Regions from separate parts of the Homo sapiens genome. Here regions 2, 3, 4 and 5 are each linked to region 1. Evidence: fine-mapped expression QTL. A gene starts in region 1. Each other region holds a variant in brackets. All regions are shown on one strand. Distances are from middle to middle.

Region 1 (5,000 bases):
TGCCTCCATTTAGAGATGGGCAGACGAAGTGTGGTTGGTGACATCCAAGGTCACACTAGGCTAGCGTGAAGCAAAGCTGGAATCCAACCAGACCTTCTGGATTCCAGAACAATGTATTCCCTGCTGCTTTATGCCCCCATGTTAAGTATTTAATTAGCATAAGTTGAAACTTCAAGTCAGCAGTTTTTAGCACTGATGAACTCATTATTGTTCTCTGATCTTCTTTAAAGACAAATTTTATGATGTGTCATTCATAGAGCCACATGACCCTGCTTGGCAAAAGGCATTGAGTCAAGCCAGACCCCACTAAGCCTTTGCAAAGTGGAGCGGCTAGTTGTAGCCGCTGTAGTTGTAGTAAGTGGAGCGGCTAGTTGTGTACCATCTGCTAGTGAAAGGGAAATGAGATTATTCTAGAAGCCAGGGACTGTCTCGGGATCTCTTATGGTCTCTGGATCTCTTATGGTCTCTGGATCTCAAGGACAGCAACCCTCCTCTTTATTCCTCGGTTTTATTAGTGTTTCCAGCGTGACAGTTCACTTCCTCTAAACAAGACATAGCTTCGTATAATGCCAGCCTTTCACGCATCATTTTGAATCAACCCTGGGGTGGTGGAGCCCAGGGTAACCCAGCTGTAGTGGACTTTAGAACGTTTTTACACCATGTATTTAAATATGGGTGTGTCTGATATTCGGCAAATTCATTTCAAGCCAAATGACGTGTCACACTCAAAAGCTAGGATGGGCCCAACTGAGAGGCTGCCCTAGTTTTCTGAGCGTGACCTGGCTGAATTCCCTCGCCTCTCCTGGCAGAGAACAGGCATTTCCCCTTGCTTTCGTCCCACTGCCTGCTTCTCAGCTCGAGCTGGGAACAGTGAGTGTTCAGGTCTTACTGGGTCTCAGATATTTTCCAGATGAAATGCAAAATGAGAATAAAGGGAGAGGCCCTATTCCCTCCCAGCTCTTTATGGTCTCTGGATCTCAAGGACAGCAACCCTCTTATTTATACCTGGGTTTTATTAGTGCTTCCAGTGTAACAGTATCACTTCGTCTAAACAAGAAACAGCATCTTATAATGCCAGCCTTTCATGCGTCATTTTGGGTCAACCCTGGGGTGGTGGAGCCGACAGACCTGGGCCCCCAAACAGCTCTGCCACTTGCTGTGTGCAGATCACAGAACATCTGTGACTCAGTTTCCTTTTTGGTAAAATGGGACTGTTGCAAGCACTGATGTTGAGGTAATACTCATAGGATGACGGTCAATAAATGAGACGATGTTTTTTAATATTAACTAGCTAAAAGACTGGACGCGTCCCTTCACTTTAGGCGCTGTTCCTTATCGGGAATACGACGAAGCTGATCCCAAAGGCCTCTCCAGCCCTTTTCAGCAGACAGTCCCGTGGGTCCTCACTCTAAGGCATTCTTTGAAGACTTGGTCTCTCTTCCACACACCCCTCCCATTCCCCATCTCTTAGTGGTGGTCTAACCCGCCCCGCCATCCCCTTCCCTCTCACTTCTCATATCCATTTGGAAGCTGCAGATTGCTGAGTTTCCAGGACTTTAATCCGCGCCCTTTGCCCTCGGCCCGGGCTTAGGGGTCGACCTCTGTCACAGGAGGCGCACTCTGCGCTTGGATCCATCCTGGGGCGCCCGGGCCGTGGATCTCCAGGTGGGAGACCGGAGGAGAGCGCAGACGTTCCGGCGCCACCCTCGGACCCGCCGGCTTTTCCAAACCTCTTGAGGAGCCTGAGCGCCCTCTCGGCCCGGCGCTGGGAGGCTGCCAGCGGACCTGGGACCGCGGCGGGGGCGGGTGGTCCTCGCCTTGCGGCGGGGAAAGAGCTAGCCTTGCACGCGCAAGCACCGGCAAGGAGCCCAGGCCGAGGGTGCGCGGTCCAGCACTGGGCGCCCTGACCCTCGAGCTCCTCAGCCCCCAACAGGCCAGACCCACCCAGAGGCCCCAGAGCGGAACGGGGTGTCCGCAGCGCCACGCCCTCGGGCGCCACCCTGCAGGCATGGGCGGGCCCAAGACTGTCCCCGCTGGAGGCGGTAGAGGGATCCAGAAGTAATGAGATGCTAATGAGTCGCGAATAAAGCCCGGGCGGCGCCCCGCGCCCCTCGCGGAAGCCCACACTCCGCGCGACTCCAGGCGCACGCCCCGGGCCGCCCCGCATCCCAGCATCCCCGCCCGATCTCGGCGTTTCCGCCCCCGCCCCCGCCCCCGCCCTCCCACCCGCTCAGACCTGGTTGCCAGCCCAACAGGAAGCGGCCCCTCCCGGCTTCGGAGCCGCCGGTAAGTCGTCCAGCGGAGCCGGCTGCGAGCCCCGCGGCCGGGTGGGGTGAGGTGGGGTGCGCTTCCGGGGAAACGCAGCTGCGGTCGCTCGGGAACCACGCCTGGCAGGTCAGGCAGGTCTTCCCTCAGCCCAGCCCTGCTCACGCCGCGTCCGGACTTTGCCGTCCAGTGTCGGGGACCCCCACCGCTGCCGCCCGCGGTCCAGCTCCCTCTCCATCCTTTCAGACCGCTCCACCCCTCTCACAGCCTTTGTCCTGGCGTTTCCAGGCTGGGTCGCTCCTTTCTCCCCTTTCGCCGAGGTCTTCCTCCTTCCACCCTCCACCCCCAAGAAAGATCTTTGCCCTTCCGTCATGAGATTCCGTCTGCCCTCGTCCGGGCCACCCGCAGCGGGAGGCTTTCATCTCCTGTCTCGGCGCGGCGGGCTGGGAACGGAGGGGCAGCTGGATGGTGGAGGGGCCTGAGCCTCAGGGACCTGCCCCCACTGCTGCCATTCACCCTCCCTAACGCTGCCGTGGACACCCGCCTCCTCCATACCCTCTGATACCTTCTGGGCCCCGCGTGAGAAACCCCCTCGGGCACCCTTCAGGTGGCGTGGGAGGGGGCGACAAAGCGAGGCTTTGTCTCCGGAGATTCCTGGGAGAGCGCGCCCGGGCGCACAGGGGGCGGGGCGGGGTAGGGGTCGATCAGGGAGGGGGGAACCTGGGAGGGGCGCACCCGGCTGCGGTCGACCCCCAGCCCTACCCACGGCCCCCTGGAGTAGGGCACATTCACAGAGGAAGTGTTTTGACCACAGTGCGTCAGAAATAGACCCAGGCCTCCGTTCCCCAGTCAGTCGCAACATCCTCCCGCCGTTTGTTGAGGCAGTTTGGTGGAGGGAAGTGGAACCTACGCGGACAGAGGCTGTTTCTCTGTCAGGAGGCAAGCACGAGTGCTGAGGAAAACTTTGCCCTTGCCATGAGACACTTCTCAGACACAGCGTGGCACTGAGGCCATCAAGGGGCGCCGGCACAGGGACGCTTGGAGGGAGATGGGGCAGGATGTATGCTCAGCAGCTGGGGTTGTGGGTATCAGATCTGTCCCTGTGTTGCATGCAAAGGCAGCTCTGTCCTCTCCACATCTAAGAAATCCCCGCACACCCTGATTCCAAGGCCTAAGGAAGGCAGGCTAAGAATTCCTACCCCAGGGCTTGGAGATCCCTGGACAGGGAGGCTGAACTGGAGGCTCCCCTGGTGTCCCATGTGCCCTCTGTGCCCAAGACTAATGTTTTTCACTTCCAAATTTGGCAAATTTCACTTGGAGTGGACTGGATAGCAGCTGTCTCTGGAGCAGATGCTGGCAGGGGAATGGGCTGGGAGGAGCAGAGCCAATCACTGGTGAATCCCGAGCTCCCTGGGGACACCAGCCTGCTCTCTTCGCCTCCCCTTCCTTTTTATTTCTTCTGTTCTCCAGCCTCTTCCCCTTCTTTTTCCACCTCTCCAGCCACTCATCTCTGCCCAGCTGCTGCCCTCCCCAGGAGGCCTCCATGGCTTCACCTACCTCCACCAACCCAGCGCATGCCCACTTTGAGAGCTTCCTGCAGGCCCAGCTGTGCCAGGACGTGCTGAGCAGCTTCCAGGAGCTGTGTGGGGCCCTGGGGCTGGAACCCGGTGGGGGGCTGCCCCAGTACCACAAGATCAAGGACCAGCTCAACTACTGGAGCGCCAAGTCACTGTGGACCAAGCTGGACAAGCGAGCAGGCCAGCCTGTCTACCAGCAGGGCCGGGCCTGCACCAGCACCAAGGTGGATACACGGTGCCTGGGATGGGGTGTGGAGCATGCGGGGAGTCAGAGGACGGACAGGATGCCATGCCCTCACTGCCCTGTGTGTTCACAGTGCCTGGTGGTGGGTGCTGGACCTTGCGGGCTGCGGGTCGCTGTGGAGCTGGCGCTGCTGGGGGCCCGAGTGGTGCTGGTGGAAAAGCGCACCAAGTTCTCTCGCCACAACGTGCTCCACCTCTGGCCCTTCACCATCCACGACCTGCGGGCACTCGGTGCTAAGAAGTTCTACGGGCGCTTCTGCACCGGCACCCTGGACCACATCAGTGAGCACCACGTGGTGGCCTGGAGGGGCGGGTGAGCTTGGGCCTAGAGGCAGGCCAGTGGGGAAATGCTGGGACAGCCAAATGTCGAAGTGGACAAGATCCGTATCAGCCAGGTGACCTTGAAGATTCAGGTCCCCCATCTATAAGTGGGCTTTTGGGCTGAGTGATTGCTAAGGCCTTTTCCAGTCTGACCCTGACCAGGCACACACTGGTACATGGGGAGCTTGTGCTGCCCTAGGGTCCCTGTTCCTAATGTCCTCTCCCTTCCAGGCATCAGGCAGCTCCAGCTGCTTCTGCTGAAGGTAGCATTGCTGCTGGGGGTGGAAATTCACTGGGGTGTCACTTTCACTGGCCTCCAGCCCCCTCCTAGGAAGGGTAAGTATTTCTATGCTCCCTGGAATCTCCCCCTCCCCCATCAAGAACTTGGCCAGTGTCTGAAAAAGGATGGGCCAGGAGTGTCCTTTTCTGTTTTTGTTTTGAGACAGAGTCTCGTTCTGTCACCCAGGCTGGAGTGCAGTGGCATGATCTCGGCTCACTGCAACCTCTGCCACCCAGTTTCAAGTGATTCTCCTGCCTCAGCCTCCTGAGGAGCTGGGATTACAGGCATGTGCCACCATGCCCAGCTAATTTTTG
Region 2 (5,130 bases), 100 kb after region 1:
GAAATTTGGGAAGAAAAGGAATTTATTTCTTAAAGTTATGGAGGCTGGGAAGTCTAAGGTTGAGGAGGCACATCTGGTAAGAGCCTTCTTGCTGGTGGGGACCCTCCATAGAGACCTGAGGCAGCACAGGGTATCACATGGTGAGGGAGCTGAGCATGCTACCCAAGTCTTCCTTTCTTATAAAGCCACCAGTCCCACTCCCATGATAGTCCATTAATTTAACAACCCACAAATCCATTAATCCATGAATGGATCGATCCATTAATCCATGAATGGATCGATCCATTCATAAGGGCAGAGTCCTCATGACCCAATCACCTCTTAAAGGTCTCACCTTTCAGTACTGCCACATTGGGGATTAAATTTTAACATGAGTTTTGGAGAGGACAGACATTCAAACCATAGCAGGTCTATCCTCTGGGAACACCCTGCTCCTGGTACCAGTTCTATATCAGTCATGGGCCATTCAGGAGACAGAAAGCACACAGTAATTCAAACAGGGAAAGTTTGATATAAAGAATTATTAACTATAACAAAAGATTGGCATACTGCTTGTAAGCAATAAAGAGAACTCTAAAGAATACAAGGATAGCGGATGTAGGGACCAGCCACTACCCTTCAGGGCTGAGATCCAGACCTCATTGGAGAGGATCTGGCCAAAGCTTATTGGATGGCTGAGAAATTCACAGAGACTGCAAAGCTATTCAAAGGGGTGCTGGAGGGGACCCGTCACAGGAGGTGCCATGCAAGTGGCACTCTACCATGGAGCTACATGCATCACTGGAGCCAGGCACCACAGAAACTGTATATACTACAAGAACCTGGTGCTGCAGAAGCCATGCACACTGCAAGAGCCTGCCTAGAGGAGCACAAGGTAACCTGGAAAAAAACCCTGCCACCTCCTACAGGGTCCCTCCAGCACCCTCTACTGAGAGCTTAACTTCTTGCCAGTTGGCAAAGAGGAAATATTTATAGGGTCCATATTTGTTATTGCAGAACAGACAATAAAGAATGAATTTGGAGCTGAGATATAAGTTGATAACTGATACAGTATTTTATCATACTGAAGTTTTAGTTCTGATACCAAAGTTACCAATTTTCCTATTGGCTTTTATATTCTGTTTAAAAAATCAGTTTGTGCATGTGTGGCATGTGTGTCTGTATGCATGTGTACGTATGTGCATTTAGATCTTTAATCCATTTGGGATTTATAGTGTATGGGGTAAGGTGATGATTTAATTTATTCCAAATAGCCTCCATGTTCTCTTTAGTTTGAAAAGCCACATACATCGTATTTAAATTTATGCATGTAAATATGTTTGTCTGTTCCATTCATCTGTTTATTAATTGCTTTACACAAGACAGATTTTCTTGTCTGAACAAAGGACTTGGATTAGGACTTTATACTAAAGTCTGAGGAAGTATTTGGCATTTGTAGGAAGAATGAAAAGATTGTTAATAGAGGATGGCAAATTTGTTTTCTAAGAAGTGAAACAAATGCTTTAACGTTCATTTGTGTTAATCTCTATTAACATACTTTGGTTTTTCACTTGTTAGTAAACACTGCTTAGAAGCAAGGGCCTCCATCTTAGCTTTCCTGCTTACCCACTAACTCTAGAATTCGTATTCAGAGGCTGCTGGCTGACCAGAGGCAAAGGCTAGCTTGTAGAAATGCAAATCAATGCTTAGGTTTTAAAGTCTGGGACCAACCCCTACTTCACCTGGGGTTGGTTCAAGATGTAATCATCTTAGTCCTTCAACCCTGTCTTCCAAGTACAGATAAGAGAATTTCATACATAAAATTAAGTAAGAGATTTAATGGCATTTGGAGTCATTTTTATTCATTCAAATACTCATAGAAATAAAGGTTGGAAAAAGAAGATATCATCACCAGTCAGCTCTAAATGGGAATCTGGATGGAGCTGTTTGAACCTGAAAAGCTGTCAGTTGAACATTTTCTGCCATATTGGGTAGGAAAACATCGTCAGTTCTTTTTTTGTGTTTAATAGGTACCTGTAATATAAGTAGATATTGGTGTTAAGAACATGGTGAATAATTCTTGTTATAGCATCATAAAAAGTCACTGTTATTAATGAGACCAAGATCATTGATTCAGTCTGGGTTAGGCCATATAGTATGCCTTCTTGTCTGTATTTTGCCATTGTCCTAAAGGGAATTGGTCAAGAATGAATCCATCAGTGGAAAGCCATTTCCAGTTAAGGAAGAAAACACAGCTCATACTTCAAGTAATCTAAAAATTCCTTAATTTTTTATCATTTGTGTTAGTGCAGGGCTAATTTTTAGAAAATTAACTGTGTTCTTACATTTCAGCCATGTATAAATTCCTCTTCAATGAGTATTTATCTGACTTGTCTCATAGGCCTTGCTTAAGAAGTCAGACCTGAGATCTGAAGTTCCAGCTAACTGTGTACCTTCCCTGGCCTTGAGGTTTTTTGCTTGGGGTTCCCGTATTGTACATAGCCACTGGGCCAATGGGCCCACAAGACACTTCACTGTAGGGTTTATTTATTTGGTAGGGCAATGTTCATCAATTAGCTTTAGCCTATCACCCTTTTGAATCTCTCAAATATAATAAATCTTCACTAATGCACTTATCTGCTTAGCAGCCTTTTCAACAAGTCACGATCACCAACACCCCCATGGTATTGCAGCTTTCAGGGTGAAATGGAGATGAAGTGATTCTTGAAAGCCCTTGTGATCCCACACATACAAAGTGAACTTTGCTTCTTTTTGAAAAGGGCTTTTGCGGAAACATAGACATATAATACAATTTCACATTTTCAAGAAAGATGACTGCACAGAGATTGGTGAGTCA[A/G]GCAAATGGTGGACATTAGTAATGTGGCCCTCACTTGGTCAAGATGGTGTTTGGGTATCTTCCCAACCTGTCTTTCCCCCTTCTTAACTGCATGTTTAGAAATCTTGAAACTTTTGATCCTTATAACTAGACCATCAGCTGCGGAATTACACCATCGAATGACTTGGAATGGCATACTTTTCTCTGAAGGAATGATTAAATATTTTCCTCTTAATTTTTCATCAGGTAATGGGAAATAATTTTTTTTTTTTTTTTTGAGATGAAGTCTCACTCTTGTTGCCCAGGCTGGAGTGCAATGGCGCAATCTCAGCTCACTGCAACCTCTGCCTCCCAGGTTCAAGCGATTCTCCTTCCTCAGCCTCCCGAGTAGCTGGGATTACAGGCGCCCGCCACTATGCCCAGCTAATTTTTGTATTTTTCATAGAGACAGTGTTTCACCATGTTGGCCAGGCTGGTCTCAAACTTCTGGCCTCAGGTGATCTGCCTGCCTCGGCCTCCCAAAGTGCTGGGATTACAGGTGTGAGCCACCGTGCCCAGCCAGGAATTCCTAAATGTGTTGATTAGATATGTGAATCTCTAGAAGGGATTCTGAAAGAAAATGCAGCAAAGAGTAAAATACTTATTAAAGCAGTAGAGAGGAGGCAGTGGAAGAGGAAGTATATGTTGTTTTACATAAACTAAAAACTGAAACATTTTACGAGTTCTTCAAATACATGCTAATCTGCATCCCAGGAATTTTCTTGGAGGGTAGATTTCTCACGTGTTTTAAAATGACTTCCGAAACTTATTTCTGCTCTGTTGGGGAACTCAGATAAGGAGTCTGATGCTGCTAGTTAATTGTTGAAGATGATTGGGGGAAAAAAGAAATTCAGAGATGGAACACAGCAAGGTGTTGGTACTGATTCCACACCCATTTATTGACTTGTAATTTAGAAGGTGCTGTTATAGGATTATTTCAACATCAGAATTTTCTTATCCAGATTCAAGGCATCTACATAAGCTCCTGATATATAATTTTTCTAATGTAAGTCTGAAGTGACCCAAAAACCATGAAATCAAATTGTAAGGCTTTATTGTTTAATGCATGTAATCAATCTTATTATTACTTACAGTCTGTGGCCTTTGAATCCATCTTGTTATTTTACTGCCTTTGAGATTAGTCTTTAAAAAGCGTTGCTGGGAGTATCTGGATGATGTGGAAGCAGAAGTTGGGGAGTATTGAGCCTGGGATATAAGGTCTATAAAGTTAAAAATGTTAAATTATATCTCTGGTTGCAATGGATAAACCTAGATTATTTTGATTTTTTATTTTTTTGAGAGTGGGGGCCTCACTCTGTTGCCCAGGCTGGAGTGCAGTGGCACGATCGTAGCTCACTATAACCTCAAATTCCTGTATCTAGATTTAATTCATAAAATTTAGGGCTTAAAATTGGCATCTAACTCAGCTTATTTTTCAGCTTCATCAATTTTGAGCAAATGTGTCAAAACTTGGAGAGAGTTTTTTGCCCAATAGTCGCATGACCAAGTAAAAGTGAAGGAGGTGACAAGAGACTTGGACTGTGGTAGGTAGAAGCGGATAGACTGAGAGCTACTTAAATTAGTAGGAGTTGAGAATTAACCAGATTTGCAGGGTGACAAAGAATAGCTCCCAAATTTCTGGCTTAAGCAACTGGATATTTGGCACTACCATTTGCTGAAAGAGCATCTCCCCCACCCCAAAAGTAGGAAGGGAGAAGGATAGGAAGACGGGTTCCATTCCTGTTGAACTTGTGAGCCTGAGACACGTGAACGTAGACATTATTCACTGGACATATGGGTCACTGGATATAGGGGTCTACAGCTCAGAGGAGAGTTTTGAGCTGCAGATGTAGACTTAGCAAACAATGATTAAAGCTGTGGGAAATATGCAATTATTTGGAGACAATGTGAGGTGAGAGAAGAAGGGGCCAGAAAGATCCCTGAACAACTTCAGTGTTTAGAGGTTGGATACAGTAGGAGGAACTAGAAAAGGAGGAGATAGAAAAAGCAGCCAGAGGAAGAGGAAAACCACAAGGAGCAGTGCCAGGAGAATAATTAGGAGAAGGGTGTGGTCAGCTGTTTCAAATGCTGCTGAGACATGAAATCAGTGAGAACTCAGTGTCCTTTGGACTTGGAGACAGAAGTGAAGGTGATCTTGGCAAGAGCAACTGCAATGAAATGGTGGTAAGAAAAATCAGATTGCTGGTGGTGGTGCAGAGACCTATTCTTGGCCCCCAATTGCAAATCTCTCCTCTCTTCTTAGAAATAGACCTCAC
Region 3 (5,130 bases), 24 kb before region 1:
TCCTGAGTAGCTGGGACCACAGGCGGGCGCCACCACGCCAGGCTAATTTTTGTATTTTTTGTATAGATGAATTCTCTCCATGTTGCCCAGGCTGGTCTCAAGTGATCCGTCGGCCTCGGCCTCCCAAAGTGCTGGGATTACAGGCGTGAGGCCACTGCGCCCGGGCCCAGAGCTAAGTTTGTAGACAGACAAAAATGGTAATGGTAAAATTCAGTTAATGATGTGAAGTGAATAGGAAGTTCATGTGGGCTGGCATTAACCTTTTAGACAGTGCTTTCTCCTTTTTAAACCTTGTTTTCTTATTTCAGATTTAACCCTTAGTGGCTTCTGAAGAAAATGGCAGAAACATCGCCAGAGCCTTCTGGGCAGCTTGTTGTACACTCAGACGCTCACAGTGACACTGTGCTGGCCAGTTTTGAGGATCAGAGGAAGAAAGGCTTCCTCTGTGACATTACTTTAATCGTGGAGAATGTACATTTCCGGGCCCACAAAGCCTTACTTGCTGCCAGTAGTGAATACTTCTCAATGATGTTTGCAGAAGAGGGGGAAATCGGCCAATCCATTTATATGCTGGAAGGCATGGTTGCAGACACCTTTGGTATCCTGCTGGAATTTATCTACACAGGTTATCTCCATGCCAGTGAGAAAAGTACAGAACAAATCCTGGCTACTGCTCAGTTCTTAAAAGTCTATGACCTGGTAAAGGCTTACACAGACTTCCAAAATAATCATAGCTCCCCAAAGCCAACAACTTTGAACACTGCTGGTGCCCCAGTGGTTGTTATCTCTAATAAGAAAAACGATCCTCCAAAGCGGAAACGGGGAAGACCAAAAAAAGTCAATACATTGCAGGAGGAGAAATCAGAACTGGCTGCAGAGGAAGAAATACAGTTAAGAGTGAACAATTCAGTTCAGAATAGACAAAACTTTGTGGTTAAAGGAGACAGTGGTGTACTGAATGAGCAAATTGCAGCAAAAGAAAAGGAAGAATCGGAGCCTACTTGTGAGCCAAGTAGAGAGGAGGAAATGCCAGTTGAAAAAGATGAGAACTATGATCCCAAGACCGAGGATGGCCAGGCAAGCCAGAGTCGATACAGCAAGCGGAGGATTTGGAGATCCGTCAAACTTAAAGATTACAAACTTGTTGGGGATCAAGAGGACCATGGTTCAGCCAAGAGGATCTGTGGAAGGAGAAAGCGCCCTGGAGGCCCTGAGGCCCGCTGTAAAGACTGTGGCAAGGTCTTTAAGTACAATCACTTTTTAGCAATCCACCAGAGGAGCCACACAGGTAATGATGTTTTCAAAGCTGATTGCAGTGTGTTGCAGAATTGGGAGTAGTGATGATAATAATAGCTTCCATTTACTGTGCAACTTCTGTGTGATGGGCATTGTAATAAAGCCTTTATACATGTTATTGCAGTTAATTTTCTCCACAATCCTGCAAGGTGGGTAATATCCTCATTATACATTGTATGATTAAAATCATATTTACTCATATGTAAGAGAGGGTTGCTAAAGTGCATAGTTTACAGATGAAGCAACCAAGTTCTAGGGAGCTTAAATAACTTGCCAGAGTCACCCGTTAGTGACAGAGCTGGGATTGAACCCAGGTAGCCTGGTTCAAGAACCCCTCTCATTTGTAGTTGTTGAATGAATCCTTTAATGTCCACTTATCAAGATCTAGCCCAATGTACCCTGCTTTCTGATTCTTGAACATTCTTCATCTTGACCATAACCATGCTTTTGCCCAAGTCTGTGTAGATCACTTTGTAACTCAGCTATCTAGCTTTAAATACCTTCTCATTTTTGGTCCCTCTAGCCCAGCGCTGACCAATGGGACCCTTCTGTGATGATGGAAATGTTCCTACATCTCTGATGTCCAATATGGTGGCCAGTAACCACATGTGGTTTTTGAGCACTTGAACTGTGGCTAGCGTGACTGAGAAACTGAATTTTAAATTTTATTTTAATTCATTTAAATTTGAATAACCACATGTGGCTAGTGGCTACCGTATTGGACACTGCAGTCCTAGTGAGAAATCCCTTCCTCCTTTGAGCCCTTTCAGGTGCTTAAAACCCACTCTGCTTTGGATCAGATTGTTGTTACCACTTGTATATCCCTCAACTTAATTGTAATCTTAAGTATAGGGACTGGGGCTTAAGTCTTCTCCTGTGATCCAGCAGTATCTGGTGCTGTGGTTCTCAGCCTGCAAATTGGAATCACTTAGGGAGCTTCTAAAACTACCAGTGCCTAGACCTCCACCCCAGAGCTTCTGATTTAGTTGTCTGGAGCCTTGGTGCTTTTAAAAGCTCCCTAAAGACTTTAGCTACAGATAGGTTGAAGAGCTTGAATTCAGGTACTTCGAACAAAGTGGATACTTGAGAAATATTTGTTGAACTGTAATAGGTTATATTTTAGCTTTTTTTTTTTTTTTTTTTTTTTTTTTGAGATGGATTCTCGCTCTGTCACCCAGGCTAGAGTGCAGTGGCGCGATCTCGGCTCACCGCAACCTCCGCCTCCCGAGTTCAAGTGATTCTCCTGCCTCAGCCTCCTGAGTAGCTGGGATTACAGGCACACGCCACCACGCCCAGCTAATTTTTTGTATTTTTAGTAGAGACGGGGTTTCACCATGTTGGTCAGGCTGGTCTCAAACTCCTGACCTCGTGATCTGCCTGCCTCAGCCTCCCAAAGTGCTGGGATTACAGGCGTGCGCCACTGCGCCCAGCTGGCTATTTTTATCAAAAATTTTATGTGCATAGTTTAGAGTTAAATCATTATACAAGACTTAAGAAAAAGCATGTAGGATCGTTCTTCCCTTATGTCCTCAGTACAGACAGTCCCCGACTCACAATGGTTCAATTCATCTTTACAAT[A/T]GTGTGAAAGCAGTACATGTTCAACAGAAACTGTACTTTGAATTCTGAGTTTTGATCTTTTCCCGGTCTAGTAATATTCAGTATGATCCTCTCATGCCATGCCGGGCCACACAGTCACGTGGGTAAATGACCAGTACTCTGCATTTGGTGCATTCATACAGTACTCTGTATAAGTGCATTTTTCCTTATGATATTTTCAGTATGATGGGTTTGTTAGATGTAGTCCCATCATAAGTCAGGAAGCATCTGTATTCTGAATTTTGCAGCCCATCACTTTAGTATGGGTCTGTTTTCTTCCATCTGGGTAGATAACAGGTAGATTCATAAGGTTTGGAAACTGTCTTTCAGTTCTGGAAAATCTTGAGTTATTTCATAGATGATTTCTCCTCTCTGTTTTCTCTGTTCTCTCTAACTTTATTTTCTCTTATATTTTCCATCATTTTTGGCCCCACCCTCTGGGGGATTTCCACTTTGTTTTTCAGCCCTTTGAGGTTTTCTGTTTCAACTCTTATTTTTTTCCCCCTTTAGGAGCTCTTTTTTTTCTAAATGTTTTAATTTGAATGATCTTTTTATTTCACAATGTATTATCTTACCTCTATGAGCATGTTAATGATAACAACATTTTCCTCACTGGAGGCAAGTTGCTTTTTTTTTTCTTCTTGCTTGTTTGTCTGTCACTATTACAAAAGGCTCTCCTTGAGTGCCTGGTGTTTTTTTTTTAAATCATATGTAAGGGTGGGTTGCTAAAAGCTACTGGCAATGCTGCATGTGTGGAGAGAGCCTGTATTTTATTTATTTCTTAGGCTGTTGCCCAGGCTGGAGTGCAATGGCGTGATCTCCGATCACCACAACCTCCGCCTCCTGGATTCAAGTGATTCTCCTGCCTCAGCCACCCAAGTAGCTGGGATTACAGGCACGCACCACCATGCCTGGCTAATTTTTTTTGTATGAGAGAGTCTGTAAAACTGTGACCTTGTTCCCAGATCACACTGAGAGTCAGGCTGCTATTTCTCGTGGCCCAATAATGAGATGCAGATGAATTGGAGAGGAAGAGAGTTTTTATTTCTGTAACCAGTTATAGGGAGAAGGCCTGGAAATTATCGCCAGACCAACTCAAAATTACAGAATTTTTCAGAGCTTATATACCGCCTAAGCTGTATGTCTGTCTGTAAGTGTGCATTCCTCTAAAGACGTAGGTGATTAACTTCTTTTAATCTATATCCAAGGTCTGCGTCCCAAAGACCTTCTTCTGGAGCCTCAGTAAGTTTACTTAATCTAAATGGGTCTAGGTGCTGGGGTGATTACCCTTATCTTCTGCTAAATCACGGAGATTTGGGGAGTTCCTTCAGATCCCCAGTAAAACTTGTTTAATCCTAAGTGGGCCCTGTTAAGAATTCCTTCGTTATTTTGTCATGCTTTAAGGCCCAGGAGAAGCCTAGGGGAAACTCTTGGTGGGCTTTTGTTACATTCCAGCCTTTGTTTAAGGGCACTGGCTTTTAATGTTTAACTTAACCACTCAGTCAGTACTGAAACAGTTGTATGGAGGCCTGTCATAACCTCACTGGAGGTGGTGTGGCTGTGCCCCATGTCCTTACTGGTGCCTGGCTTCCACATCTTTGCTCTCTCACCTTGGACCTCTCATGTTCCACTGGAAGACGCTTCTGCTCTCCCACTTGGAGGCACTAGGCCTGGCTGCTGGCCTGTGTCTAGGACAGGATGGGGAAGAAGGAGTGGGGGAGTCTCATCATCCCAGATGGAAATGTTGACTTACTCTCCCTGTGGTGATCCCAACTCAACTGTGCCTAGAAACTCCTAATCCAAAGACCCCTTTTTCTTAACCCTCCTCAGTGAACACTCTCCATTCTCTTTTGGGGGAGGGACAGTCTCCTGGCTGTGTAGAGTGGAAGATTTGATCAGGGGTCTAAGCACCTTTGAAACAGACTTTCATTTACCCTCCCTCACCCCTGTTTCCAGAGATAGCAGGTGCCACCAATTCCTGAGCCTTAGGAGATTGTGTCTTAAAAATTAGGTTGTATTGGGCTGGGTGTGGTGGCTCATGCCTGTACTCCCAGCAATTTGGGAGGCCGAGGCAGGAAGATTGCTTGAGCCCAGGAGTTGGAGACCTGCCTGGGCAACATAGTGAGATCCCATCTCTAAAAAAAATTAAAATTACAATTAAAAAATTAGCTGGGTGTAGTGGTGGCACATGCCTGTGATCCCAGCTACTCAGGAGGCTGAAGTGGGAAGATCATTTGT
Region 4 (5,130 bases), 120 kb after region 1:
ACGCCTGCTGCACAGCCAGCCTCCAGCGGCCCAGGCTCCTCACTTTGCACACCAGGTTGGCCAGGCTGCAGTTGTCCTGCTCCAAGGCCCACAGCTGTTCCTGCTAAGAAGGCTCATTTTCAGGAAAGGCTGCCCCCAACATTTTCATAGGAAGGGCACAAACCCTAACATCAGAAACATGCCTTCCAGAAGATGACACAATTGTGCAGTGCGTCCCTGTGCCCCCTTTAAAATGCCTGATGCAATGCTTTCTCAGGGAAATCAGGCTGGAATGCTAACAGGGTGAATGGTAGAGTCAGATGCTAGGATGAAACGCTGATATCCCATTGCTAAATGAAATCACATACTTTGGCTGGGTTTTCTTTCATTCCTTCATCGGGGCTGGCAGAGCACCATTTTTTCTTTAGGTCCTTCATATTGTCAATCCCTTCTGTTCTCACTTCACCGATGAGCTCACACACTTTCTGGATCAAATTAAGCTGATTATCATCCAGCTTCTCCTGCAAATTGCAGAATCAAGTCAAGGAAGTAAAATGGATTTGGGTAGTGTGAAGGGTAGTTGAAGAAAAGCCATTTTGCCTTCTACAACTTAACTTTTGTAAGTAATTTCACATTAAGATATCACCTCCTCAGACAATTATTCTGACATGTACTATAAGGAAGTCACACTTAGCAGCCCCCTGAGTGCTGTCTTTTATTCACAGGGCTTCATCTTCTGGACACCAGCACATCTTAGATTGTGCCTTCCTTGTCAACACCAAGGCAAGCTGAGCCAGGAGGATAGTGGAAGGTCACACAGGTAGAAAACCTGCTGACCAAACTGCCCCTGGTAAGAGTTACTTGGGAAGCTGAACCAAAGATTTTTGCTGCTATGTTGACTCACAGTAGAATGTGAGCAGACAAGACACTGTAGATGAGCCACTCCTGAGGAGCTCTGTTAAATATAGATAAAGTGGAGGAGGGAGTCAGGCTGGCTGCCTTCCTATTTAGGATCTAGCAGAAACCCCATTAGGAAATATTCCGTTCTGAATGGCTTCTGGCTAAATGGCTTGTGAGGAAACAGCCTGATCAATGGTAAGTACGACTGAAGACCCAGTGCTATGGACTGAATTGTGTCTTCCTCAGATTCATATGTTGAAACCCTAACCAGCAATGTGACAGTATCTAGAGATAGGATCTTTAGGAGGTAATTAAGATTAAAATGAGGATATAAGGGTGAGGCTCTATTGCAATAGACTGTGGCCTTATAGGAAGAGGGAGAGAGAGAGACCTTTCTTTTTCTCCCTCTCTCCCATGTGAGGACAGTGAGAAGGCAGCCACCTGCAAGCCAGGAAGCATGCCCTCAGCCAGAAGCAGACCACACTGGCACCCTGATCTCAGACTTCTGGCTTCCAGAACTGTGAGAAATATACTTTCTGTTGTTTAAGCTGTGCAGCCTATCATATTTTGTTATGGCAGCCTGAGCAGACTAAGACACCCAGTGTCTCTGGGGTGAGAGGTAGGGTAGGGGTGTCCTCTCACTTCTAAACCACTTCCCTGGAGAGGAAGGCAGGAGGAGGGTGCCCAGCTGGGAGCCACGGAGGGAAGCCTGGCTCTGGCCACACAACACAAGCTTTAGCAACTTCGTGGGACCCTGGAATATAACAGGGATTCCCTACTGTAGGAGGCTTGGTGGAACTACTTCAGCCTGGGAAACAGAGAGAATCTACTTTTTAACTGGGAATCTGGCAGAAGCTAAAAGGAACTTAAGACATTTCTCAACAATCTCACACCTGAAAGATGGCTTAGCAAATTCCAGCTGTCACTGTCTGCCCATCCTTCTCCTGCAGCACCAGACCTAATACATTTTGGGTTCGATCCCTTAATATGTGTAAGCATTTACACTGCAAGTAAGAGGAAATTCTCGCTGGAATGACCAGGCCAAGGTGAGTACTGGTGGAAGCTCCTGTTAACCTAACAACCCTCAGGGCCATTCTGCAATCCCTGGGGAGAGACTCAAGGACCCAAACGGG[G/T]CTGGCTTTGGGGTGTATCCAATAGCAGGGAAGGGGACAGGGTTGGGGGAAGCTGTGGACTTGCAGGTGGTAGGTTGCACTGAAATTCACACTGGTGAGTCAGCTGGACCAGTCTCCCTGATGGCCCATTTTAGGCTTGGGGCATCTATCTTATGGCTGTGCAAACATCACATGAAAGCGATTGGCTTCCACAGTGCTGCGGGTGCATGCGTACCCCATCACTTCTGCAATGGGTCTTTGCTGACAGGTCAGCAGTTTGCTGACATTGAATGTGAGAGTGAGGCTGGCAGGCATTTTGAGGGTTGGAAAAAAATGTGGAAGCTGATTCAAATTCTGAATGTGTCCAGGGAGTTCTCCAGAGGCACCTGCTGCTACCTACGTAAGGTCCGGCCTGGCCCAGGCACTGTAGTCTGGAAAGTCACACTAACAGATAAAATGGTGATAGAAACTGGGGAGGTGAGGGACTGTGGGGAGCAGAACACTCTGTCCTCCCAACAGCAATCAGACAGTGACAATAGCAACTGTCAATAGAGGGTAAAAGATAGACTTCTATATTATCCCCAAATTCAGTGTCTATCGTGGTTAATGACAACCCATTGCTGACTCTCTTTCTGCAGTGAAAGCTTAGAGCTAGAAAATTCTTGGGCCTAACAATCTCTTGTTACTACAAAGCCCATTATTCTGTCATCGATCCCTGGGTGTGCAGCCACCATGGGAATCCGTTACACTCGGCTACCCAATGGGTGGCCCAGATGTTCAACACGGGACACTTACTTTTATGTGTAAACAGGTCTCAAACAAAGCTCGGACTAATGCTTCATATTCTTCTTGGACTTCTTTTCTAATCTGCTTCTTGAGATTCAGATTCACTTCTTCCAAGTCTGTGAGTTGGGCTCTCAGAGTGGTGATTTCCATGATCATATCATGACTGAGCTCTGCAATCTAGAAGCATGAGAAAATGTGTGTGTGTGTGTGTGTGTGTGTGTGTGTGTGTGTGTGTGTGAGAAAAACAATTTAGGAGTTTCAAACTGCTACTACAAAATAGTTTCTTATAGATCAGTATTGAATTTCACTTCTATTTTAAACCTAATGAAGAGAGTGAACATTCTGCTAAATAAATGTGGGCAGAAGAATTTAAGGACAATTCAAAGGTCCCAGAACAGTGCCAGACACTGACTGGTGAATAAGTGACCCCAGAAAAGCCACTACATAGGCCCTTTTCAGTTAGAGAAAAATACTTCAACTGTCTTGGCCTCCATTTCCAAACTGGCCTCCCCTTGACACCTCAGCCCAAACATCCCTTTTCTTTTTTGGAATGCATTTTATTTTATTTATTTATTTAGTCTGAGACAGAGTTTTGCCCTTGTTGCCCAGGCTGGAGCGATCTTGGCTCACCGCAACCTCCACCTCCCGGGTTCAGGCAATGCTCCTGCCTCAGCCTCCCGAGTACCTGGGATTACAGGCATGCTCCACCACACTTGGCTAATTTTGTATTTTTAGTAGAGACGGGGTTTCTCCATGTTGGTCAGGTTGGTCTGGAACTTCCGACCTCAGGTGATCCACCCACCTCAGCCTCCCAAAGTGCTGGGATTACAGGCGTGAGCCACCGCGTCTGGCCTGGAATGCACCTTAACTGGCATCAAAAGAAAACAAGAAACAACAACAAAACTCCCCAAAGTAACAACAAAAACAGAACAAAACAAAACCAGTACAAAATAACAAAAGCGACCAAAAAACTCAAGAAAAAAAAATGCACCCTAAGGAGGGTTGCTCACCAAAAGTGAAAGCACACTCCTTGGTGTTCCTGCAGTGGACCTTCACTGACGGGACTTCTACAGGTGACACAAGCAAATGACTCTAAGGCATCCCATAGCTGGCTAGCCCTGAGAGTGTGGATGTGAGAAATGGAGAAGAGAACCTTTTAATAGGAAATGACCTACCTGGCCAGCACTGTCTTCAGGTGGACCCTGGCCTCTTTGTGTAGCATCTAATTCCTGGGCAGGAGAAAGCAGTACACAACCAAACTCTAACATTTAGTCTTCCAACCATGGCTCAGGTCAGTACAACACATTCCAAACACCTCCTATTTGTGTTAATGGAGCCCCATTTTGAGAACCTTAGGCTGTGCCTGGAGCTGAGACTGTGTGAGTTGCCCCACTGGACTTCAGGATGCCTAACACAGCCTCAAAAGACAACATTGACTTCCAGGTACCCACACTGATGCCAAGAACTGAGTAATGGGGATAGCCCAAAATAGGGGTGGCTCCAAGGCTCGTTGTTCATCATTTCAATGCTTCATTTGGTGTTTTGGCTAGTGGTTTAGACTTTTGAACTTTTCTAAGGTATAAACTAAAATCACACTAAATCTCTGATGCAATCTACCTTCACAATAGTGGGCAGCCCAGGGCAGGAGGACTGACTCTTCCATCCCACCAGCAGGCTCATATTTTAAGGAAGTCTCCCAGTGAGACTGACCCATGACATGCATCCTGAAGAGAGAGTTTACTCAAGGATCCTGGCTTCTTTCCCAGACCAGGAACAGCGCACGGTGCCTTGTGTTTGCTGAGGGTGGAAAGGACAGCTATGTACCTTCCCCTGCAGGGCCAGCCCCTTTGTTGCTCACCTTTCGTATTCTCCACTGGACACTTCCCAAGCACATAACCTAGTGTGCAACTGAGAATACCAGAGCCCAGGAGAATGATTGAGCCAATGAGTAGAGAGATTTGAGGGTACCATTCACCCTCAGTTCTGGCATAAGAACCACTGTATGTATCCCAACCCCCTCAGTTTTACTTTTCTCTTCTGAGTGCCTCCTGAGCCTCCCTGCCCATGCCCATTCCCCACTGCAGTTCTTCTCTCTCTGGGAACCTACTTGCTCTTTCTGGCTGAGCCTCTGCCTAGCATGATGCAACACATGCTCATAGCACATGGAGTAGGTCTCAAAGTTGCTGCATTCTCTTGCCATCACATCACAACCCAGGGAAAGGAGGCAGGCCTCAAGGTGATCTTTCCTGAAAGTGATCTGAAAGGAAAGAGGCATTCATTATTCACAGCCACTCCAGCAGTGCAGCCTCATCATGCCAGGGCCCCAGGCACTCTTTGCCTTGGCTCACAGACC
Region 5 (5,130 bases), 86 kb after region 1:
TACGAGAGTCCTGGTCTTTAAAGATCTACTTTTAGCAACAATTCAGGTATTTAGCAATATCTGAAAACTGTCAAGCCCTGCTCTTTTAGTGTATATTTACTGTTAAAGCACAGAACTTCCTCTTTTATATTAGTAGAATTTGGGAGGATGCTGATTCCTATTGAGGTTTTTGTTCGATTGTTTGAAAGTCTAATGCAGTGAAAAGATTACTCATTTCTGTGCTTCATCAACAGTTATTTGGCACCCTTTCCCTGTCTTTCGTGGGTTAAGCATATCACTTTGAAGTCTGTTCAGTTATGTACTTTAAACAGAAGTAACATTTGTTTTCCAAATTCTCTTTAGCCTTCAAACCCTTTTTTCTGAAATAGTACAAAAATGAATGTTTGCATAGCACCTTACATTTTTATAAAAATATAAATCTCATATGATTAATCTTCCTCATCTTTCCCCAGATCATCCCTAGCGGCCCACCAGCATAAGCATATCCTCATATTGAAGCCCTTGCACTCTGAAGCCTGACTTACCTAATGATTTCCTGAGACAAAATAAGCTCTCTTAGCTAGTGACTCCTATAGTGCACTTTCCAAAAATTTGAACCCTACCCTTAGGACAACCTCTTAATGAAACCTTTCTCAAATGCTCCAGCAAACTTTGAATTTATTTGGTAGCCATTTGGATGTTAGAAAAAATGTTAATTTGTAGAAACTATATTCACATCCTTCCTTTCTGAAAGCCTTGGTCAGACTTCTATTAGTATTCATACTACCAATAGAAACTTAATAGGTGATATACTGGCTGGACGAGGTGAGTCATGCTTATAATCCCAGCACTTTGGGAGGCCAAGGCGGCAGATCACTTGAGGTCAGGAGTTCAAGATGAGCCTGGTCAACATGGTGAAACCCTGTCTCTCCTAAAAATAAAAAATTAGCTGGGTGTGGTGGCACATGCCTGTAATCCCAGCTACACAGGAGGCTGAGGGAGGAGAATCGTTTGAACCTGGGAGGCGGAGGTTGCAGTGAGCTGAGAATGCACCATTGCACTCCAGTCTGGGTGACAGAGCGAGACTCCATCTCAAAAAAAAAAAAAGAGTGCTTTAGTCCCTAAAATGATTTTACATTCAAACTAATCCTTCTCAGAGTGTACATTTCTTTAGCAGTATCATCAGCTATTAGGTTGGTGCAAAAGTAATTGCAGTTCTTGCCTTTAGTAATGGCAACTCAAATAGTATTTTGGCCTCATGCAGTGTGGTGGACTAGAGCTTACTTAACCTTGGGCTCTTAGAATCTTACGTTGGGGAACTGTGGGCCCAGGGCCCCTGTTCTTATAAAGCTTTATTGGAACATACCATGCCCATTCGTCTGCATGTTGACTTTGGCTGCTTTTGCATCACACAGTGCCCAAAGAGTAAAATATTTGCTTTCAACCCATTTAAGAAAAGTTTGCCAACTCCTGAAGTGAAGAAGATAGGCAAATCTCAATACCCTTGTAAGAGAGAACTTACGACTTTAATAGTTTTTGTCTTAGGAGAAAGATTATGAAGAACCTATAGTTTCCTCACCTAAATGTTCTTGCCCTTGGCAGTGAGCAAGATAAGAGTTTTCGCAAATTTTATCCAGATGTATACATAGATTTTATACAAGATAGATACATAGATATTAACAATTTTATGATTGCTTATTGTTTTAAAATACACTTAAATCCTAGTATTCTTGGGTGCATAGCTATGTTAGTGAACCATTAACTGAAATTTGGCTTTTGGTCTCTAAAAAATTGAAAGCATGTTGAAGTTGGCAGGATTATTTTTTAAAGCTGTTAGATAACTGGGAAGCTAGAAATTTAAGGTTTTTTAAAAAGACATTTTGTTTTCATTCCAGCTAAACCCACAGTTCAGCCCTCCCCTTCTACAACTTCCAAGACAGTTACTACATCAGGTAATTGAGGCTTTTTAGATTAGCAATGATGCAGGATGTGTGCACGATGTTGCCCTTTACAATTTCTGCCATCATTTTCCAGCTTTCTTCGTTAATGGTTATGGAACTGAAATTCTTCTCTTACTCTTAGGGGGGATCAAGGTAGTGCTTTGTTAACACAATAATGATAGCTTTGCTGAGATTCCTCTTCTCATTTTTAAATGTGTAATCACATTTGACGTGACACTTTAGAATTAAGTAATAATGTTTTTCCAAACATTTCAGTACAACTTGTATGTAAAATCTAATTTGTAACTTCTGATTACCGTTAGGGATTGGTTGTGTGCTGTATGAGAGAGCATGGCGATTTGAGGGAAGATAATATATCCGTCCTTTTCACTGAGAAAGGTCTAAAAAGCCAGAATCACTACCAGATGTGCACCTCACTTTCTTAACCATTTCTTAACATTGCTCAGTAATGTGAAAATTAGCTTGTTATTAAATGATGATTTGACATAATCTAATTTAATTCA[T/C]AGTTAGGTTACGCCACAGGATACTGTAGGTACACAGGTTAGGAATCCTTTCCTCCCTCCATATTTTTAAAAAACTGATGCTAATGAATCTTCTACCTGCTTTTTGTGATTTCTTTTTCTTCATGCTTATGCCACCTTTTTCTCAGTTTCAGTGAAGCCATTCTGTCTTCACGAGAAGGAATACAAAACAGTTGTCATTAAAGTTACCAACTTGTACAGCCACCAGAACCAGTGTTCTTTGATAACTGTTACTTTTTTCTTAGATTATTTTAAATGGAAATCGCTTTTTCTGTTTCCTCTTGAAACATTTTACTGCCTGAAAAGAATTCAGATATTTGTTTTTTCCTTATTACTTGATAATACTTTCTCATGTGAAATTTGTTGGCAGGATATGCCTTTAAAAACAGTTATTTTACTTGTTGAAATTATAAATTGCATATTATTAAGATTATTTTTGTAACATGAAAAATTGCAACCAAATATTTTACCTTATACTAGTAAATTCAAAAGTCATGTGAATTCTCAGCACTATTGACGTTTACACTCACAATTAACTAAAAGTACATAGTCTGAAGAAATTGTTGCATATTTTAGAAGTGTTTGATACATTCCCAGGGCACAATTTATGTACTAGGAGAATTTTTCCCATTGTTTTTATATTTGTACTAGTACAGTAGCATTGACCACTTTGTATCCTTGGGTGGAATGAAAAATGGGATATGGTTGTCTTCCTCAATTAGGGATAAATTCTAGCTGTAAAGACTTGAGGAAATACTTTATAGAATTTAACACATGGCAAAATAGAGGCTCAGGTGCATCTTTAAATTACAATAGAGGACCATGAAACTTAGGATTGTTGTTTCTTTTGTCTTATCTAACAGGTACAACAAATAACACTGTGACTCCAACCTCACAACCTGTGCGAAAGTCTACCTTTGATGCAGCCAGTTTCATTGGAGGAATTGTCCTGGTCTTGGGTGTGCAGGCTGTAATTTTCTTTCTTTATAAATTCTGCAAATCTAAAGAACGAAATTACCACACTCTGTAAACAGACCCATTGAATTAATAAGGACTGGTGATTCATTTGTGTAACTCACTGAAGCCAAAATACTATCTTTTAAGATGTCCCACATGGAAGACGCTATTCCAGGATCTTTAAATTTCCATGGATGCATATAGGATGTTTGGGAGCATCATCCGTGAAGAAAAAATCAATTAAATCATTGTGTTCAACAGGAATATTTAAAATATTCTGCATGAATCCTGTGGCTGTCTTATTTTAAATAGCTGCTGCTGTGGGATTATATTTTTTTTCCTTAACATGCCAAATATAACTTTCTGAAAGTGATGGAAAATGTTGTCTTGTGCAGACAACATCATGGCTCTTGGCAGTTTAAATTTAGTAATTTTAATTTAGTGAACAGAATTGAGAAGAACGTGCCAAATGAGAATCAATTAGGTGGATTTTTGGCTGTCATTTCAAAAGTGGAATAAATTTATTAATTTAGTAGTACTAAATGGTATCCTTAGATTAAAATTTTGTGCTTGATAACAGCTGTTTTTTCTACATTAGAAATAAGATGCCACACAAGGAACTACATTCCAGATTTAAAGAAATGAAAGGATACCATTAGTGTGTATAACAGATTATTGTTCATACTTGTAAAGCATCTTATGTCATTGAGAATATAAAGAACAGTGCCTTAGAAGACAGTGAAAGGTAAGCTCTAGCTTAATGTCTATGATTTGTTCTTTGACATTAAGGAAGGTAAGGATTGGTCAGAGGATGTAACTTGATGTGAGCAGTAGTAAACCTGTTTTAGATATCATACTGTTAATATTTTATTGAAAATTTATTTCAGAGCGGAGAAACTTAAGCTAAAGTCTGTTATACAGAATTGAAAGCCTTCGTATCTTGAACCTCCCAACATTTTTCTTATGGCTGTTGAAAAGTATAGAGCTAAATTGATTTAATTACACTTTCCTTTGTACTTTAAAAAAAAGTATGCTAGCACTATTGTACCTTGAAAGGATTTCCACCAGACTGTCTTGAGTAGTGACTTCTTTGGTGAGGCAAGAAGGATATACATTATTTTAGAATCATTTACTATTTAAATGAGACAATCATATTATTTTAGAATCATTTATTTTAAATGAGACAATCATTTTAAGTTTTAAGATAACAGAAGTGACCAATGTAATTTCACAACACCTAAGGATTTTTTGGTTGATCAGGTTACTGTAGATTTTTACTGATTGTCCTGGATGAATAGACTGTGCTTTTTCTTTTTCTCTCCCTTCCTTCTTGGTTTCCCATAGTATAATAAGCATGCATACTTTAACTTCTATAGTTTTCTCCTTTAGAGGGTCGTCTTCAGTTTTAGAGGTTTACTTCTCCCTTGCCTTTGACTCATTGGACTAGTGCAGAGGCTTTAAGTAGTTTAAAATGGGCTTTTGCTTTTCTAGGTCATTAACGTTTTTTATTTAGTTTCTTTAGCCAATAGTGGCTGAGTTTCGCACTTGATTTTCAATATTTTATAGTAAGAAATGACAAACTGCTTTGTTTCATTTCATAAACAAACTCTGCATTTAGATAACTATTAAAGGTTGTTAAGATGAAGATTTACTGTTTCTTTGTTACTCGTTGGTACAGCTGTTTGTTTTACTTGCACATTTGTACATATACT

Alleles and levels. Alleles are on the strand shown, and positions count from the first base shown. SD is a standard deviation of normalised expression in the study named. Not every link is listed here.
For the expression in monocytes of the gene that starts at base 2,233 in region 1, allele G in region 4 goes with a lower level than allele T (small effect, 0.38 SD a copy in CEDAR).
With allele T in place of C in region 5, the expression in memory regulatory T cells of the gene that starts at base 2,233 in region 1 is higher (large effect, 1.2 SD a copy in Schmiedel 2018).

The links. PIP is the estimated chance that this variant, and not a neighbour inherited with it, causes the effect.
Region 2: its variant is the best candidate, but not a certain one, in a credible set for the expression of MICAL1 in whole blood (INTERVAL, PIP 0.59).
Region 3: its variant is the best candidate, but not a certain one, in a credible set for the expression of MICAL1 in whole blood (INTERVAL, PIP 0.74).
Region 4: its variant is the best candidate, but not a certain one, in a credible set for the expression of MICAL1 in monocytes (CEDAR, PIP 0.57).
Region 5: its variant is the best candidate, but not a certain one, in a credible set for the expression of MICAL1 in memory regulatory T cells (Schmiedel 2018, PIP 0.64).

Annotation. Positions count from the first base shown.
Region 1 is chr6:109,453,005-109,458,004 of GRCh38, reverse strand. MICAL1 (microtubule associated monooxygenase, calponin and LIM domain containing 1) reads left to right here and starts at 2,233. Exons shown (of 25, transcript NM_022765.4): 1 at 2,233-2,286; 2 at 3,766-4,066; 3 at 4,160-4,367; 4 at 4,638-4,742. The coding sequence starts at 3,809. RefSeq lists silencers at 1,612-2,461, 2,822-3,161 and enhancers at 2,721-3,229, 3,312-3,361, 3,592-3,641.
Region 2 is chr6:109,351,731-109,356,860 of GRCh38, reverse strand. It overlaps the pseudogene CCDC162P. Among named protein-coding and RNA genes, the nearest start is that of CD164, 28 kb to the left of the region's middle. The variant A/G (reference allele first, on the strand shown) is at 2,837.
Region 3 is chr6:109,477,233-109,482,362 of GRCh38, reverse strand. It overlaps ZBTB24 (zinc finger and BTB domain containing 24), which reads left to right. Exons shown (of 7, transcript NM_014797.3): 2 at 309-1,288. The coding sequence starts at 337. Among named protein-coding and RNA genes, the nearest start is that of ZBTB24, 3.4 kb to the left of the region's middle. RefSeq lists an enhancer at 1,152-1,653. The variant A/T (reference allele first, on the strand shown) is at 2,875.
Region 4 is chr6:109,336,272-109,341,401 of GRCh38, reverse strand. It overlaps the pseudogene CCDC162P. Among named protein-coding and RNA genes, the nearest start is that of CD164, 44 kb to the left of the region's middle. The variant G/T (reference allele first, on the strand shown) is at 2,013.
Region 5 is chr6:109,367,212-109,372,341 of GRCh38, reverse strand. CD164 (CD164 molecule) reads left to right here. Exons shown (of 6, transcript NM_006016.6): 5 at 1,875-1,931; 6 at 3,325-5,130. The coding sequence ends at 3,491. Among named protein-coding and RNA genes, the nearest start is that of CD164, 13 kb to the left of the region's middle. The variant T/C (reference allele first, on the strand shown) is at 2,444.